3 linked regions of the Homo sapiens genome follow. The protein of the gene in region 1 purifies or fractionates together with the protein of each later gene. This does not show direct contact. Each region holds a gene or a part of one and is shown in the gene's direction. Other genes may lie near its edges.

Evidence for each region.
Region 2: the proteins of HAPLN3 (region 1) and CHAC2 purify together in Homo sapiens (affinity purification with mass spectrometry; 2 studies listed by BioGRID and IntAct, with this or other methods). This does not show direct contact.
Region 3: the proteins of HAPLN3 (region 1) and MAEA purify together in Homo sapiens (co-immunoprecipitation; 2 studies listed by BioGRID and IntAct, with this or other methods). This does not show direct contact.

Annotation. Positions count from the first base shown.
Region 1 is NC_000015.10:88,885,435-88,892,550, reverse strand, and holds part of HAPLN3 (hyaluronan and proteoglycan link protein 3 isoform 2 precursor), read left to right. Parts: intron 1-3,170; exon of another isoform or gene 3,171-5,125; intron 5,126-5,205; coding exon of another isoform or gene 5,206-5,252; coding exon 5,253-5,376; intron 5,377-7,116. UniProt on the Homo sapiens protein: May function in hyaluronic acid binding.
Region 2 is NC_000002.12:53,770,737-53,775,745, forward strand, and holds the end of CHAC2 (glutathione-specific gamma-glutamylcyclotransferase 2), read left to right. Parts: intron 1-1,170; coding exon 1,171-1,206; exon of another isoform or gene 1,207-1,208; coding exon of another isoform or gene 1,209-1,211; intron 1,212-3,405; coding exon 3,406-3,789; 3' UTR 3,790-4,460; downstream 4,461-5,009. UniProt on the Homo sapiens protein: Catalyzes the cleavage of glutathione into 5-oxo-L-proline and a Cys-Gly dipeptide. Acts specifically on glutathione, but not on other gamma-glutamyl peptides.
Region 3 is NC_000004.12:1,313,882-1,320,997, forward strand, and holds part of MAEA (E3 ubiquitin-protein transferase MAEA), read left to right. Parts: intron 1-1,515; coding exon 1,516-1,719; intron 1,720-7,116.

The DNA of each region.
Region 1 (7,116 bases):
TGGAAAATGGCCAGCTTCCTCCTGGCCTTTTGTTCTTGGGCACAGGGCTGATCTTTTCTTATAATTCCTTTTGTTTTTCTTTTCTTTTTTTTTTGAGATGCAGTTTCACTCTGTCGCCCAGGCTGGAGTGCAAAGGTGTGATCTCGGCTCACTGCAACCTCTGCCTCCCAGGTTCAAGCAATTCTCCTGCCTCAGCCTCTGGAGTAGCTGGGATTACAGGCACCCACCACCACACCCATCTATTTTTTATATTTTTAGTAGAGACGGGGTTTTACCATGTTGGCCAAGCTGGTCTCAAACTCCTGACCTCAGGTGATCTACCCTCCTTGGCCTCCAAAGTGCTGGGATAACAGGTGTAAGCCACTGTGCCCAGCTAATTCCTTTTGATTTTCTTGGCATCCCCCTCAATGTGAGGTTACATTACTGCTGAGTTAGCATCCAACAAAGAGGTGTTACTGATGTCACTTAGTGGCAGAAACGCCTGCATTTGTTTACCCTTAGGAAGCCCTTTCTCACTAGGGAGCATTTGTGCTAGATGAGCCGCTGTAAGAGGCTGGAAACATTATAAGCAGCAGCTGGGAGCCCCTCTGCTCAAGGAGACTCTAGGTGCCCAGGGACAGCGGGGAGCCCAGGACATCAAGCTCAACATCAAATCTTGGCCCCACTTCCCTCCTGGTTCCAGGTGTGGAGCCTGAAGGAAGGCAGAGGAAACGAACTCTTACAAGGGTTTGCTCTGGGCCACTGGGCTGTGTGTGCCACACAATCACCTCCCTGAATTTGGCATGGTTCCAGGCTTTGGGGCTGGAGTGGGTTCGAATCCTAGCTCTGCCACTTCCTAGCTGGATGACCTTGGGCATATGACTTAGTCTCTCTGTGCCTTGGTTTTTCCATCTGCAAAATGGGAACACTACTAGGCTCACATGTCAGGGTAGTGGTAAGGATTACATGAGAGATACCAGGTGTGGTGGCTCATGCCTGTAATACCAGCACTTTGGGAGGCGGAGGCGGGCAGAACAATTAAGCCCAGGAGTTTGAGACCAGCCTGGGCAACATGGTGAAACCCCATCTCTACTAGAAATACAAAGAATTAGCTGGGTGTGGTGGCACACACCTGTAATCCCAGCTACTTGGGAGGCTGAGGCAGGAGATTCATTTGAACCCAGGAGGCAGAGGTTGCTATGAGCCGAGATCTTACCACTGCACTCCAGCCTGGGCGACAGAGTGAGACTTGGCCTCAAAACAAAAACAAAAATAAAATAAATGAGAGAGTAAGTGCTCAGCTGTTAATACTTTTATACTGATCATAGTAATGCTGTGGTGTGTGTATTTGTTAGGACAAGTGAGGCTAAGCTGTGTTGACAAAGAGATGCAGGCCGGGTGCAGTGGCTCACGCCTGTAATCCCAGCACTTTGGGAGGCCGAGGTGGGCAGATCACCTGAGGTCAGGAGTTCAAGACTAGCTTGGCCAACATGGCGAAACCCCGTCTCTACTAAAAAATTACAAAAATTAGCCTGGTGTGGTGGCAGGTGCCTGTAATCTCAGCTACTCAGGAGGCTGAGGCAGGAAGAATTGCTTGAATCTGGGAGCAGAAGTTGCAGTGAGCCGAGATTGCACCATTGCACTCCAGCCTGGGCGACAGAGTGAGACTTAGTCTCAAAAAAAAAAAGATGCAAAAAAGTGGTGGCTTAAATATGATAGGACTCTGTTTCTCTCTCATAGGACAGTGCAAGTGGAGGAGGTCCAGGGCTGATGGGCAGCTCTGCCATTCAATCTGTGGTTTCCATCTCTGACTCTAAGCTGGATACTGTGGTTTCCAGAAGGTTGGGGGAAGGAATACCAGGGAAAGGCATCTGTAATTGTTTTAACTGCCAGACCTGGATGTGGCATGTTATTTCTGCTTGCTGCCATTGATGAGAACTGAGTCACATAGCTCTCCTAGCTGCGAGGGAGGCTGGAAATGCAGTCTTCAGCTGAACGGTCGTGCACCCATCTAGACCTCTGTTACTTTAGGAGAAAACTAGAATGCATTGGCGAGAAATATACCAGGGTGAGTTTTATGATCTCCATTTCGCAACCGAGGAAACTTGCCCAGAATCTCGCAGTGAATAAATAGTAGAGGTGGGATTTGAACTCTGATCTTCCAGTTCCCAAACTCTGTACCAGGTTGCCCCATTGTGCTTAGGCCTCCCAGTTCTCCATCACCAAGGGGGCTTACAGGAATCAACAGGGGAATGAATTCCTCTTGGACAAGAAGTGGGGTTTCAGAGTTGGTAGTGTCCTGGCTGCAGTGCACAGCACAGATGGCAGGTCTGGGCCTTGGGATTTCTGTGGTGTCTAAGGGAATGGTGGATTTGGCCTCTCAACTTTCTTTACATCCATTCTCTCCAGCAAGAGCTCCTAACTGTTCTGGAAACAAGAATGTTTCCTCCACAATCCCATCACTCTAACAAGCCAATGCTGTGTGTGTCTGCCTGCCTCCTTTCCTCCCTCCTTCCCTTTCCTTCCTTCCTTCCTTTCCTTCCTTCCTCCCCTTCCTCCCTCCCTCCCTCCCTCCCTCCCTTCCTTCTTTCCTTCCTTCCTTTCTCCCTTCTGTCCTCCCTCCCTTCCTCTTTAAGTGTTTCCTCATCTTCTGGGTCCTGTACACAGGCATTCACAAGACCACATGGTTGCAATCATAGCAGAGGCAATTGTATGTTCTGCTTTGTCTATTTTAACTTACACCCTAAGCATTCTTCCACGTTGCTACATGATAATCATAGTTATGTTTGCAGCTGCCTGCTGTCATTCTGGTCTTGCTGCCCCCAGGTCTACCTTCCACTCAGCCCCTGCAGGGAAGTGTCTTAAGATGTGAGTCTGATCCTGTGACTTCTCTGCTTAAAGCCATCACTGGCCTCCAGGACAAAGGATAGACTTCTGGCCAGGTGTGGTGGCTCATGCCTGTAATCCCAGCACTTTGGGAGGCCGAGGTGGGCGGATCACTCGAGGCGAGGAGTTCGAGACCAGCCTGGCTAACATGGTGAAACCCCGTCTCTACAAAAAATACAAAAATTAATGGGGCATGTTGGCGCATGCCTGTAATCCCAGCTACTCGGGAGGCTGAGGCATGAGAATCACTTGAACCCAGGAGACGGAGGTTGCAGTGAGCTCAGATCTTGCCACGGCACTCCAGCTTGGACAACAGAGTGAGATTCTATCTTTAAAAAAAAACAAAACAGGATATGCTTCTGGGCCTGACACCCAAGGCATCCAGACGCTGGCCCTGGTGACCCCCTTACCTCCTCTCCCCCATGCAGCCAGGGTCTTGGCAGGAAGCAGAATTCAGCCCAGATGATTCCAATAAAGAGACTTTAATGGAGGAATGACTTCTAGAGAGTAGGGTGAGGGGACCCAACAAGGAAGTGGGGGACGCAGAGGCCAGCAGCAGCAGCAGACACTCTATGGCAGAGGCACTGGGGTGGCAAGGGAGCTGGGAAGCAATGCCCCGTCTTCCTCCTCTTCCCTCTCTGCCATCTTCTCTGAGTGCCTCCCATTGGCTCAATCCCACTGGAAGCCAGAAGGCCTGGGGAACTGGGACAACAGGGACCAATACGTGTCAGAGAAGGACAGACGATGGACCTGGTGGGTGTGTGGGGCAAATGGAGGACCTCCTGTATACCCCCAGCACCCCCAGGCTTGGGACTCTTGCTGGCATCTGCACCTTTGTAGTGGCAGTGCCCTACTGGATAAACCTGTCAGTCCTTCTCCACCTGGCAAACTCCTGCATCTTCAGTCTCATTTGGACATTCCCGTTTCTGTACCTCCATCGTGGTACTCAACACACAGCAATCAAGACTGCCTGCCCACGACTCTGCCCCCTCCCTGGACCAAGCTCCTTCAAGGAGTGACCCCATCTTTTAATTGTTGAGAGCACGCAGTAAATGGCAGGTGAGCAGGGCTAGGGTGACATGAGTGAGGCAGTAGCCCTTGGTGTGAGATTTAAGCGGGGGAGGAAGGGAGTTTGCTAGAAATCTTAGTAATCAAGACAAAATATTTGAATACAATATTTAAAAAAAAATCAAATCATCAAACTACAGCCCATGGGTTGGCTACCTCTTTTGAGCGCCCACCCAAACTGGAATAGCTCCCAAGACCTCTAGCATGGTGTTCAAAAATTATTTTTGAGTTGGGCGCAGTGGCTTATGCCTGTAATCTCAGCACTTTGGGAGGCCGAGGCGGGCTGATCACTAGGTCAGGAGATTGAGATCATCCTGGCTAACGCGGTGAAACCCCGTCTGTACTAAAATTACAAAAAATTAGCTGAGCTTGGTGGCACGCACCTGTAGTCCCAGCTACTCGGGAGGCTGAGGCAGGAGAATTTCTTGAACCCAGGAGGCGGAGGTTGCAGTGAGCAACCTCCACTCCAGCCTGGGCGACAGAGCGAGACTCTGTCTCAAAAAAAAAAAAAAAGGGTTCACAATGCAGGACTCATCTTTACTTAACATACCCTCTATTCACCCTGATATTTTCTATTCTAGTCTAGTTTATTTGGCGTCATTAAAAAGTGCTGCTCATACCTTTCTTTTCTTTTCTTTCTTTTTTCTTTTTTTTGAGATAGAGTTTCACTCTTGTTGCCCAGGCTGGAGTGCAATGGCATGATCTTGGCTCACCACAACCTCTGCCTCCTGGGTTCAAGCGATTCTCCTGCCTCAGCCTCCCGAGTAGCTGGGATTACAGACATGTGACACCATGCCTGGCTAATTTTGTATTTTTAGTAGAGACGGGGTTTCTCCATGTTGGCCAGGCTGGCCTCAAACTCCCAACCTCAGGTGATCCGCCCGCCTCAGCCTCCCAAAGTCCTGGGATTATAAGCGTGAGCCACCATGCCCAGCCTGCCCATAACCTTTCAAATTCTGGCTTGAAAAACATTGAGCCTGTCATATCATCCTGCTTAATTTTCTCTGCTTTTAGCTGCCTGATACTTCCTTCTTATGATTTGTCTCTTTGCTGATCTCCCGTCTTGCCTTCGGGGTACAGCTCCCTGAAAGCAGGAACCCCATCTAGCTTGTCACTGCTGTCTTCTCAGCTCCGGGAACAGCGTCTGGCACGTAGGCGGCAGGTGTCCCGCAGTGAGCTGTTGAGCAAGCGAGTGAGTGGTGTTGGAGCAGAGGGGATGTGGGCCCTGGAAGCCAGGCTTTTCTAATTGCCTTGTTTTCCTCCCCTTCCCAGTTTGCCCTGGGGCCCCAGCCTGGCCCGGGTCACCCTGGCATGAGGAGATGGGCCTGTTGCTCCTGGTCCCGTTGCTCCTGCTGCCCGGCTCCTACGGACTGCCCTTCTACAACGGCTTCTACTACTCCAACAGCGCCAACGACCAGAACCTAGGCAACGGTCATGGCAAAGGTAGGCGACCTCCTGCACCCGGCTCTTTGCTCCCCTGGGTGACCTAGACCTCCTTGGCTCTTGCTGTGATCTGAGGGTTCCAGGCTGGGACAGGGACAGCAGCCCTGTTCCAGCAGGGCCCTTGTAGTGGGCCAGCTTGCTTCTCAGACAGGGGAAGGGGTGAGTTCATTTTCCTGTGTTCGCCAGCCCCTTCGTCATGGGGCCCAATTCACTTAGGCTTTTTACTTTCCCTAAAAGTCTTGCCAGTTGTTCAAGGTCCAGCTTGAATGTGTCCTCCCCTGGTCCCCCCAGTGGAAAGGGGACCTGGGGTCGAATAGATGTGAGTTTGAATGTTTTTTTTGTTTGTTTTTGAGATAAAGTCTCACTCTGTTGCCGAGGCTGGAGTGCAATGGCACGATCTCGGCTCACTGCAACCTCTGCCTCCCGGGTTCAAGCGATTCTCCTGCCTCGGCCTCCCGAGTAGCTGGGATTACAAGCATGTGCCACCATGCCTGGCTACTTTTTGTATTTTTAGTAGAGAAGGGGTTTCACCATGTTGGCCAGGCTGGTCTTGAACTCCTGACCTCAGGTGATCCACCTGCCTCGACCTCCCAAATTGCTGGGATTACAGGCATAAGCCACCATGCCTGGCCCGAGTTTGAATCTTATAATTCTACCTCTTACTAGCTGTGTGGCCTTGGGCAGGGAACGTTTTAAAGTAGCAGTTATTGTGCACCCAACATGGGTTGGGCGCGCTTCTAGATATTTTGCATATGTCGTCTCCTGTAATCACAAAAGCCCTGATGTAGGCAAGGGTGAAAATATACCTTTTTTTTTTTTTTTTTAAGATGGAGTCTCACTTTGTTGTCCAGGCTGGAGTGCAGTGGCGCGATCTTGGCTCACTGCAGCCTCTGCCTCCCAGGTTCAAGCGATTCTCCTGCCTCAGCCTCCCAAGCAGCTGGGATTACAGGCATCTGCCACCACACCTGGCTAATTTTTGTACTTTTAGTAGAAATGGGGGTTTCTCCATGTTGGCCAGGCTGGTCCTGAACTCTTGACCTCAGGTGATCCACCCGCCTCAGCCTCCCAAAATGCTGGGATTACAGGCGTGAGCCAACGAGCCTTGCCGAAAATACACATTTTTAACCATTAGTGCAGCACGGGTGCTGACCAGGCTGAATTGATGCTGTCTGCCCTCACAGCCTGAAAGTAGATTCTATTATCATCCCTTCTCATAGATGAGCAAACTAGGCTCAGAGAGTTGATCCAGTTGTCCAGGTCAAACAGCTATTAAAAAGACAAAGCTGAGGGCTGGGTGCAGTGGCTCATGCCTATAATCCCAGCACTTTGGGAGACTGAGGTGAGTGGATCACTTGAGGTCAGGAGTTCAAGGCCAGCCTGGCCAACATACCGAAACCCTCTACTAAAGATACAAAAAATTGGCCAGGCGCGGTGACTCACACCTGTAATCCCAGCACTTAAGGAGGCCGAGGTGGATGGATCACGAGGTCAAGAGATCAAGACCATTCTGACCAACCTGGTGAAATCCTGTCTCTACTAAAAATACAAAAGTAGCCGGGCGTGGTGGCAGGTGCCTTTAATCCCAGCTTCTCAGGAGGCTGAGGCAGGAGAATTGCTTGAACCTGGGAGGCAGAGGTTGCAGTGAGCTGAGATCATACCACTGCACTCCAGCCTGAACGACAAAGTGAGACTCCGTCTCAAAAAAAAAAAAAAAAACACAAAAAACAAAAAATTAGCCGG
Region 2 (5,009 bases), on another chromosome or scaffold:
ACCTGTGTTAAAACCAAAATGGGAAAATAAAATTGCCTAGAACACAAGTGGTCTGATTGTCCCATATAAGAACTACACGAATAGGCCAGTTCTAATACTGACCTTTAAATAGGGCAAAGTAAAGTTCATTTATGAATGTAAAAGAAATGCCTACCTTGAAGCACCATTACCATATACAGAAAGGTAAGAACACTTCATAACTCAGAAGTGTAAATCACTCATTCTCTCTCACTTAAAACCTCTTAATATCCCCTGGTAGCAGTGGTTCTTAAAGTATGAGCCCCAGAACAATTTCTGAAATCAGCAGGAAAGTTGTTACAAATGCAAATTCTTAGACAGCTCCAGACCTACAGAATCAAAAACTCTGGAGGTGTGGCCTAACAATGTCTTTGTCAAGCCCTCTAGGTCATTTTGATCCACTAAATTTGAAAGTCACTTCCCTATATATAGGAAAGCACCCTTTATGTCATATTTTTTTTCCCCTAATAAAACTATAGGCCGGGTGCGGTGGCTCACGCCTGTAATCCCAGCACTTTGGGAGGCCGAGACGGGTGGATTACCTAAGGTCAGGAGTTCCATACCAGCCTGGCCAACATGGTAAACCCGTCTCTACTAAAAATACAAAAATTAGCTGGGTGTCTTGGCGGGCACCTGTAATCCCAACTACTCAGGAGGCTGAGGTGAGAGAATTGCTTGAGCCCGAGAGTTGGAGGTTGCAGTGAGCCAAGATCGCACCACTGCACTCCAGCCTGGGCTTGTTGAGCAAAACTCCGTCTCAAAAAATAAATAAATAAATAAATAAAACTATAACATTCTTTTTTCCTTAAGGGAAAAACCAGAATATTTATAATTACTGCTTCCATTTGCCTTTCATTTTAGATGACCTTTAGTTACTGGTATGTTTTCCAATATATCCATGTAAAGTGAATATAATATACCTAATACGTATAAATTGATGGAAATCTTTTAGAAAGGCCAACACAGTCTCTAGATAAGGTAGGTTCTCTTAATTCACTTAAGCTTTATCATAAAAAATAACTATGCTTAAGAAATAGTGCTTCTTATGAGCAAATATAATTCAAATATTCCATGTCAAAAATGTTGCTAATGCTCAGCTACTTAATGAACTTTATTAATTCAGAAAAATTTTTTTTTACCTTTTTAAAACAGCCTGGAAGAGTTGTGACTCTTGTTGAAGATCCTGCGGTATGGTATAAATATTCTTTTTTGTATAATTTTAATTTTATAAAATGTTGCGATGTTTCTGTTTCAATTTGATTAACAATCATCACAGACAATTTGAACTACCCTAAATTTAGAATTCTTCTCTGTATTTGTGGGTTTTTTTTGTGTTTGTGAAAACTGAGGCCAATAAGAAAAGTTAGAATGCAGAGTGCAAGGTAGACAACAACGTACAGACAAATAGCATGTAGTTTTCGTTTTTGTGGGGTTTTTTGAGACAGAGTCTAGCTCTGTCGCCCAGGCTGGAGTGCAGTGGCGCGATCTCGGCTCACTGCAAGCTCCGCCTCCCGGGTTCACGCCATTCTCCTGCCTCAGCCTCCCAAGTAGCTGGGACTACAGGCGCCCGCCACCATGTCTGGCTAATTTTTTGTATTTTTAGTAGAGACGAGGTTTCACCGTGTTAGCCAGGATGGTCTCAATCTCCCGACCTCGTGATCCGCCCGCCTTGGCCTCCCAAAGTGCTGGGATTACAGGCATGAGCCACCGCGCCCAGCCGTGGGATTTTTTTAAAAACAAGTTTATTAACTAAGAATTTTGTGGTCCCCTTTGACATTAACGGAAATACCTGCCCCCGACAGCCAGACTACCACCGAGAATTAAATGGAACCCTTAAAAGCTCTCTTCACTTTTGCTACCAGTCTCATTTTCAGCAGAAATCTAAGTGAGGAATTCTTATTTTCTTTATTGCTTAATTGTATCAATAGCACCTGTGTGTTGTGTTTTGTGTTTTTGTTTTTAAGTTCAGGAGTACATGTGCAGGATGTGCAAGTTTGTTACATAGGTAAACATGTGTCATGGGGGTTTGTTGTACAGATTATTTCATCACCCAGGTATTAACATTAAGCCTAGTATCAATTAGTTATTTTTCTAGATCCTCTCCCTCCTCCCACCCTCCACCCTCCCGTAGACCCCAGTAGAACCTGTGATTTTAAAACTGGTTTGGAGCACCAGAAAGTTTTATTTAACCAACAATCCTCAGTTTCTTAAATATTTTCAGTCATTTTATTGGGGTACAGATTCAGAATTTTATATTGTGAAATTAAATGTTTAACTTTGGAAAGGACTTTAATAAACAAAAATCAAGCAGTTAGTAATGGCAGATAAATAATGGTGTGGATTAGGAAATGCTTTCATAATTGATACTACGAAAAGCATTTATAAAAAAGATCTTCAAATTGGTAACTTATAACTCCTAATTAAACAGTTAATAAACAAATGGCACTTTGTTTCTAGAATTTTTTAATGACCAAGTGAAAGGCTCATATTTTTCATTTCAGTCCCGTTATTAAAGAAAAAGACCAAATTAAAAAAAAATTTTTTTAAGATAAAATATCTTGCTGTGCCTATGATACAAAGAAATTATTCACAATGGAGATTTTAAAGTGCTTATTTCCTTTATTGTTTAGTATGTTCTTCTGTGCACTTTAAGTGAAGAAAAACTGTATTGACTTTTATTTATTTTTTATTTTTTTGAGACAGTCTCACTCTATAACCCAGGCTTGAGTTCAGTGGCATGATCTCGGCTCACTGCCACCTCTGCCACCCGGGTTCAAGCAATGCTCCTGCCTCAGCCTCCTGAGTAGCTGGGATTACAAGTGCCTGCCACTGTGCCTGACTAATTTTTGTATTTTTAGTAAAGACGGGGTTTCACCATCTTGGCCAGGCTGGTCTTCCACTCCTGACCTCGTGATCCACTCACCTCGGCCTCCCAAAGTGCTGGTATTACAGGCGTGAGCCACCGCTCCTGGCCCACTTTTAAAAATATACAAGATACAGGCAGGCATGGTGGTTCACACCTGTAATCCCAGCACACTGGGAGGCCGAGGCAGGTGGATCACTTGAGGTCAGGAGTTTGAGACCAGCCTGGCCAACGTGACAAAACCCCTTCTCTACTAAAAATACAAAAATTAGCTGGGCATGGTGGTGCATTCCTGTAATCCCAGTCACTTGAGAGGCTGAGGCAGGAGAATAGCTTGAACCCGGGAGGCTGAGGTTGCAGTAGGCCACGATCGTGCCACTGCACCACAGCCTGGGCAACAGACAAGACTTCATCTCAAAAACAAACAGAAAAGAATATATGAGATACTCCCTTAGATCACAACCTTTCTTCACCTATTTTAATTAGCCTTATAATACCAGTGTATTCTTTTCATTTTTCAACAGGGATGTGTATGGGGTGTTGCTTACAGATTGCCAGTAGGAAAGGAAGAAGAAGTAAAAGCATACCTTGACTTCAGAGAAAAAGGAGGCTACAGAACCACAACAGTCATTTTTTATCCAAAAGATCCCACAACAAAACCATTCAGTGTATTGCTATATATTGGAACATGTGATAATCCTGATTATCTTGGTCCTGCACCTCTGGAAGACATTGCTGAACAAATTTTTAATGCAGCTGGTCCAAGTGGAAGAAATACAGAATATCTTTTTGAACTTGCAAATTCTATTAGGAACCTTGTGCCAGAAGAAGCAGATGAGCATCTTTTCGCTTTGGAAAAATTAGTAAAGGAACGTTTAGAAGGGAAACAGAACCTCAATTGCATATAATTTAGTCTTCAGAGAATTAACTTCAGTGCACAATGACAATATGATTTGGAAATACGTTTACTTAAAGATCTTATTTTTAATGTAGTGAGGATATTATTTAAACTTTTATTTTAACTGGAAATGTCCTGAAACACATATTTAAAATATTGGGATACAGTGAAAGAAAAATTCAAATTTTAATAACATAAAGATTTCCTAACTTTATGTTATTGAACACTTACTCACTAGAAGTGAGTTCTTTAGAAAAATACAGTGAAGGACTCAGTTCAGTCTTGTTTTTATCAGAGTGATAATCATCCTGTTTCACATCCCAATACTATTTTGAAATTCTAAACAATTAAACCAAAATTCCAATAAATATAAGGTTATGCCTTCAATATATTCCTATACAATTCTGTAACCATGGTTTAAAATACACAAGCTTAAAATAACATGCTTAGAAATACACAATAATATGAACAGTATTTCAGCCTTAATTGTGAATTTCCTTGTTATTCAAGTATTAAATGAAATCTTTTGAGTTTTTAGCCAAAAATTGGCATTTTTAAAATACGAAAATTTCCTTGGAATTATAATGTACTGTACCTCTTCTTTTTTAAATAAAGGCATTTTACTATATGGAAAATAACTCACTAAAGCATAAATTACATTATACAAATCATGATCACTAATGATGTAGTCTGTCATTCACTTTGTATTAATCTTATACCAAAACTGAAAAAGATGGGCTGATACTACAAATTAATGGCACATATAATGAAAATTTAGTTTTTAAAACAGCTTTTGGAATTCTTTGTCTGTCACTATCTCAATTTGTGTGTGTGTGTGTGTATATACATATATATACATATAAAATTTTTTTTTTCTTTGCAGCCTGCGTCTGGCCATCCCACAGGCTGGAAAGTGTAACCTCTGGCAGAAGCCAAGAACAGGCACCTCCTGGAATTATAATTTTGTTTTGTTTTTTGAGACGGAGTATCGCTCTGTTGCCTAGGCTGGAGTGCAGTGGTGCCAACCTCAGCTCACTGCAGCCTTCACCTCCCAGGTTCAAGGAATTCTCCTGCCTCAGCCTCCCGCGTAGCTGGGATTACAGGCATGTGCCACCACGCCCGGCTAATTTTTGTATTTTTAGTAGAGACGGGGTTTCACCATGTTGGCCAAGCTGGTCTCGATCTCCTGACCTCAGGTGATCCACCAGCCTCAGCCTCCCAAAGTGCTAG
Region 3 (7,116 bases), on another chromosome or scaffold:
AAAATAGCCAGGCGTGGTGACACACACCTGTAGTCTCAGCTAATTGGGAGGCTGAGGCAGGAGAATCGCTTGAGCCCAGGAGGTCGAGGTTGTAGTGAGCAGAGATTGTGTCACTGTACTCCAGACTGGGCAACAGAGTGAGACACTGTCTTAAAAAAGTGATTGGGCAGGCACAGTGGCTCACGCCTGCAATCCCAGCACTTTGGGAGGCCAAGGCAGGCGGATCACCTGAGGTCAGGAATTCAAGACCAGCCTGGCCAACATGGCGAAACCCCGTCTCTATTAAAAATACAAAAAAATTAGCCGGGCATGGTGTACGCCTGTGGTCCCAGCTACTCGGGAGGCTGAGGCAGGAGAATCACTTGAACCCAGGAGCTGGAGGTTGCAGTGAGCTGAGATCGCACCACTGCACTTCAGCCTGCACAGAGACTCTGTCTCCAAAAAAAAAAAAAAATTCAGAATTTAAAAGGGACTAAAATTTCAAGAAATGGGAAATATAATAACCAAAAATGAAAAACTCAACATTTGCCTATAACAGTTTAACAGTTAACAGACAAAGCTAAAGACAGAATTAGTGAACTGGAGGGTGATCGAGAATGGAGCACAGAGACTGAAAAATCAAAGTGGCTGCGAGAGTAAAGCATGGAATAGAGCAGAAACCTGTGGCATGTTTCACCAGAGCCCACCAGTGGGTGGGGACAGAGATGGTGCGGGGAGAGTGACCAAGGTTTCAGAACTGATGAGTACCACCAGGTCAGAATCCGACACAGAGTAAGTGAAAATAAACCGACATGGGATTTTCCCGTGGTGGAACTGAAGAAAACAGAGACAAAGAAATATTTGAAAAGCTCCTGAGGGCAAAAGATGACTTCCAAAGGGGCAACAGACAGCCGGACAGCTGATTTCTGCACAGCAGTTGGAAGCCAAAATTGGTAGAATGTGCTGAAAGAAGCCAGCCCGGATCCTGGATCTGTCCAGTAGTCAGTCGCCGTGTGTGCTGTCAAATTTTTAGCGAAGAATTCAGTTCCTCAGTTGCACCACTGCCCTTAAGTGTGTGGCAGCCACGTGGGCTGGTGGCAGCTGTGTTGGGCAGCACAGGCCTGGAACGTTTCTATCTAGCCCGATTCATTTTTAACAAAATTGACTTTAAGAAAAAAAGTATTGCAAAAGATTTTTTTAAAGTCACCTTATAATGATAAACAGTTTAACCAGAAAGGCATAGCAAATTTGAAATTGTATGCATCTGGCAACATGGCTTCAGGGTATATTAATATAAAGCCAGAAATAGCAGAGAGAAGCTGCAGATCCAGGGTGGTGGATTTTCACTGCCTCCGTCTGCAGCTCTTGGGCCAGGCACACCTGCCTAGCGGACTCGGTAGAGCACGGTTTTTTTTCTGTCCCGTAATCCCTGCTTTTCTCCTTGTGAGTGTTGTGGATTGGGGCAGCCTGGCCTCCCTTGGTGCAGGGCTGCGGGGCATCCCTGTCCTGAACGTGCCTCTGTTGTGTGTGGCTCAGGCGGTGGAATCCATCCAGGCCGAGGACGAGAGCGCCAAGCTGTGCAAGCGCCGGATCGAGCACCTCAAAGAGCATAGCAGCGACCAGCCCGCGGCGGCCAGCGTGTGGAAGAGGAAGCGCATGGATCGCATGATGGTGGAGCACCTGCTGCGTTGCGGCTACTACAACACGGCTGTCAAGCTGGCGCGCCAGAGCGGCATCGAGGTGGGTGCCCGCCAGACGCAGGCACAGCGCCCCAGCTGGCCCCAGGCCTATGGCCAGCCGCCCTGTGGCATGTCCCCCGGCATGCCTGTGTCCCTACATGCTTGTGTTCCCCTCCCCCCACCCCCGTATGCTTGTGTTCCCCTCCCCCCACCCCCGTGTGCGTGTGTCCCCCCTCCAGTGTGTGTGTGTGTCCCCCTCCCCGTGTGCGTGTCCCCCTCCCCCCATGTGCATGTCCCCACCCCTGTGTGCGTGTGTCCCCTTCCCGTGTGTGTGCCCCCCCCCCCCCAATGTGCGTGTTTCTCCCCCACCCCGTGTGTGTGTCTGCGCTGTGGTGAGGGCCTCCTCCCCAGCTGAGAGGCCCTGACCCTTTGTGGAAACGCACCTGGGACTTAGCCTTCTGAAGGCAGGAAGTCAGTGTCTAAGCGGCTCTCCAGGTTCTTCTCATTTCCCTGTGGTGTCTGCACACATCCTGCTTAGGATTTTCCCGCCCGATACCTGTACCCCGGGTTTTGCGCTGACACATGCTCCATTGCTTCCTCGTGAGAGCTTTGCCTTTATCTCAGGCGGGGTGCGTTTTCCGTGTTTTCTGTGGCACCCTGTAGAAACACGTGGCACCCTTGCCCTCTGTGGCTACAGCTGAGCAGACGCTGGGCGGTGCTGCCCTCTGGCACCTTTGGGCCAGGTTAGCTGGGGCGGCCTCTCTGCCATCGGGCAGTTGTCCACTGCTGTGGGGGCCCATGGCAGTTGGAGCCTCCCAGACCAGCACTTGGGCCCGTCGCCCTTGCCCCTGTCCAGATCCTGCTGTGGGAGCACAGCCTCACCTGACTCGGGTTAAGGTGGCGTCCGTGTTCCATTTGACTGAGATGACAACACTTGAGAACCTCTCAGGCAGGACTTGTGCGAGAGGATTGTGCCCCATGGCCCTGTCCCGGGCCCAGCCTCCCCATGCCCAGCCATGCGCCTGGCCCCACAGGCCTCCCTCCCATGCTGCTCCCTGCCACGGCTCCTCAGCCCACCTCCTCCCTGCTTCTGTCTAACCAGGGGTCTTCTCTCTTTCCACGGCTTAAATCCCACCCACATGTGTGTGGCTCCCACCTGGGGCATCATGGGCCTCAGCCCTGGCTGAATTCAACCCCAGCACAAGGCTCCCTTCCCAGCCTTGGAGGCGGCCTCACATTGTGCAGTCCAAGGCCTCGGGTGCCCATGGGGCCACACTCACGCCCCCATGCAGCCATCTGCACGCCCTGCTGGCTTGCAGCCTCCCCCACACTCCTGTCACGCTCCTGCCCAGCTCCCCAGCCTTGCGGCACTCCAGACTCACCCCCAGGCCCACCCGGCCCCACACTCCAGACTCACCTGCAGGCCCACCACGGCCCCACACTCTAGACTCACCCCCAGGCCCACCCCGGCCCCCACACTCCAGACTCACCTGCAGGCCCACCCGGTCCCACACTCCAGACTCACCCCCAGGCCCACCCCGGCCCCCACACTCCACACTCACCTGCAGGCCCACCCGGTCCCACACTCCAGACTCACCCGCAGGCCCACCCCAGCCCCCACACTCCAGACTCACCTGCAGGCCCACCCCAGCCCCCACACTCCAGACTCACCCGCAGGCTCACCCCAGCCCCCACACTCCAGACTCACCCGCAGGCCCACCCCAGCCCCCACACTCCAGACTCACCTGCAGGCCCACCCGGCCCCACACTCCAGACTCACCCGCAGGCCCCACACTCTGGACTCATCTGCAGGCCCCACACTCCGGACTCATCTGCAGGCCCCACACTCCGGACTCACCCGCAGACCCACCTGGCCCCACCCTCTTGCTGGCTCTTGTCCTCGGCATTTGTCCCGCACCTCGTTCACCTTCTCTCAGATGCTGCCCTGGGTGGAGCGGCACCCTCCCACCCATGCCTTCTCCCCACTGCTGCACAGCCTCCCTGCTTGTGTGTGTGTGTGGTGTCCGTCCTGCCCTCCAGGAGGGGAGTGGCGAGCAGCTGCCCAGTGGGCAGGGTGAGCGAGTGAGTCCTCGTGTCCTGGAGGCCCTCATCTGCCCAGACCTGCACAGCACTGTTGCTCTCGGCACCGCTGGGGTATGGCGTCTCGGTTCACAAGCGTGAATGTGATGTGTCACAGCTGTGCCATGAGTTGATCTGCCAGATGGCAAAGTGCACTGATCCTCTGCGGTGACCGGGGCTGGTGCCCCTGGGTGCCCTGCAGTCTTGTTGAGTTTCCGAAGTCTCCAGGTCATGACTCGCAGCCACTCCAGTGTGCACCCAACATTCTCATCGCTGGACGGGGTCGTCTGTGATGCCTCTGCCGTGCTGCCCACTGGGCTGCTGTGGCCCCCATCTGGTGCCATTTTTCCTCCACCTGGGTGTCAGGGAAGGGCATTCTCACCTGCACCTGCCCAGGCTCATGTGACGGACAGTGGGCCAGCACATGTCCGCTCCGGTGCCCTGTCCCACATGCCTTTCCCACCCACCCGCCTCCCTGGCCCCGTGTGCCCGGCTTCCCCCAATGCACAGGCCCTCGCTCCGTGCTGCCCACATGTCCTGGCTGCCTGGGGCGGCCCCCCGTGTGTTCATAGATGACCTAGCCATCCTCTCCTAAACGCCCAGCACACTGTCCTTGGGACCCATGGGGTGTGACCAAGCAACCTGGCGGTGGCTGCTGAAGCATGAGCTGTGGGTGCCCCTGGCCCCAGGGAATGTGCGCTGTGTTGGGGGAGAGAGACGTGAAGTGAAAGAAGGGGGTCCTGTGGTGGGCACAGGCCACGCGTTCCACAGAAGTGCGTAGAGCAGGGTGGATATGGGAGTGCTGATGATTCTAAGGCCAGTTGGAGTAGGCCTCAGCAGGGTGAGACGGGCTACACTCAAGGTGTTGGGGTGCCCTGAGCATGTCTGTCCAAAAGAGGGCCTGGAGCTGCTGTGTGGAAGAAGGCGGGCGTGTGGAGCCCATGAGGACTGGGTTGCGGGGGAGGGGTTCTTTCTGCTGAGATGCTCCGGAGGGCGTTGAGCTGAGGAATCGCTTTTGACCACAGGTGACCATGGCACTAGGAAGCCCTGGGGAAGGTGCTGCTGTGGCCGAGGGGGAGCTGCCAGGTTGTGGAAATGTAAACCCCGGCTGCGCTGGTCAGACCTGGACTTCCTGTAGGGGGCGCCATGGAATTCCCACGTGGGACCCCAGTTTCCTACCTGTGCACCAAAATTCCTGTGCACCAAAATTGGAGACGTGACAAACTTAGGAAAATAACCTCATGCTCTGGATTGGAGCAAGGTCCCAGACAATACAGGACAGGAAGCTGCTGCCAAGGGAAGGCCACCCAGGAACAGGACAGGAAGCTGCTGCCCAGGGAAGGCCACACAGGAACAGGACAGGAAGCCTGCTGCCGAGGGAAGGCTGCCCAGGAGGGGCAGAACAGAGTCCTCAGTGTGGCTGGTGCTGTGCGCCTGCCTGTGCTGCCTTAGGCTGGACGCAGGGCTCTCAACCCGTAATCCTAGCACTCTGGGAGGCTGAGGCGAGCGGATCTGTTGAGCCCAGGAGTTTGAGACCAGCCTGGGCAGCAAAGTGAGAACCCTTCTCTACAAATTTTTTTTCAAATTAGCTGGGAGTGTTGGTGGGTGCCTGGGGTCCCAGCTACTCTGGAGGCTGCAGTGGGAGGATCACTTGAGCCCAGGAGGTGGAGGCTGCAGTGAGCCAAGATTGCACCACTGCACTCCAGCCTGGGCAACAGGACAACACCCTGTCTCAAAACAAACAAAAGTCAGCATGAGCATTTCGTGTGAGACAGAAAACCAGTTCACTTAGATGGTTTCTAGTTTCAGTTGACGTACGAGCCTGCTGCCAGCTGGCCTCACATCTTTCATGTGACTCTCACAACCGGAGACCCGGACATTGGAGAAACCCTCAGTAAGAGAGATCCAACTGGGTTCAGACCCCGAGGCTGTGTTGACGGGACATGAGGCAGGATATAGACCAGGAGCCACCTCCTGAAATTTAGAGCAAAACTACAAAACAAGGCCTTTGGGAGACCAGGGTGGGAGCATCACTTGAGCCCAGGAATTTGAGGCAACAGTGAGCCATGATCTCACCACTGTATTCCATCCAGTCTGGACAAGAGAGCGAGACCCTGTCTCAAAAAAAAAAAAATGGTTTTTCAAGTTGCAAAACAAAGTAAGACTTTGTGGGAGACCCAACATTCGCCTGCCCTGAAGGGGCTTCAGAAAAGAAATCATCAAAGCAAACATGCAAGAAAACACTATGAAGGGGCTCCAGAAAAGAATCATCAAAGCAAACATGCAAGAAAACGCTATGAAGGGGCTTCAGAAAAGAATCATCAAAGCAAACATTCAAGAAAACGCTATGAAGGGGCTTCAGAAAAGAATCATCAAAGCAAACATGCAAGAAAACGCTATGAAGGGGCTCCAGAAAAGAAATCATCAAAGCAAACATGCAAGGAAACGCTATGAAGGGGCTTCAGAAAAGAAATCATCAAAGCAAACATGCAAGAAAACGCTATGAAGGGGCTTCAGAAAAGAATCATCAAAGCAAACATGCAAGAAAACACTATGAAGGGGCTTCAGAAATCATCAGAACAAACGTGCAAGAAAACACTATGAAGGGGCTTCAGAAAAGAAATCAAAGCAAACGTGCAAGAAAACTCTATGACGGGGCTTCAGAAAAGAAATCAAAGCAAACGTGCAAGAAAATGCTATGAAGGGGCTTCAGAAAAGAAATCATCAAAGCAAACATGCAAGAAAATGCTATGAAGGGGCTTCAGAAAAGAATCATCAACATGCAGGAAAACGCTGTGAAGGGGCTTTAGAAAGAAATTATCAAAGCAAATATGCAAGAAAACGCTATGAAGGGGCTTCAGAAAAGAAATCATCAAAGCAAACATGCAAGAAAACGCTATGAAGGGGCTTCAGAAAAGAAATCATCAAAGCAAACCTGCAAGAAAATGCTATGAAGGGGCTTCAGAAAAGAAATCAAAGCAAACGTGCAAGAAAACGCTATGGAGGGGCATCAGAAAAGAAATAATCAAAGCAAACGTGCAAGAAGACACTATGAAGGGGTTTCAGAAAAGAAATCATCAACATGAACATGCAAGAAGACGCTATGAAGGGGCTTCAGAAAAGAAATCATCAAAGCGAACATGCAAGAAAACGCTATGAAGGGGCTTCAGAAAAGAAATCATCAAAGCAAACATGCAAGAGGCCGGGCACGGTGGCTCACGCCTGTAATCCCAGCACTCTGGGAGGCCAAGGTGGGCAGATCACGAGTTCAGGAGATCGAGACCATCCTGGCTAACACGGTGAAACCCTGTCTCTACTAAAAATACAAAAATTTAGCCGGGCGTGGTGGCAGGCGCCTGTAGTCCCAGCTACCCGGGAG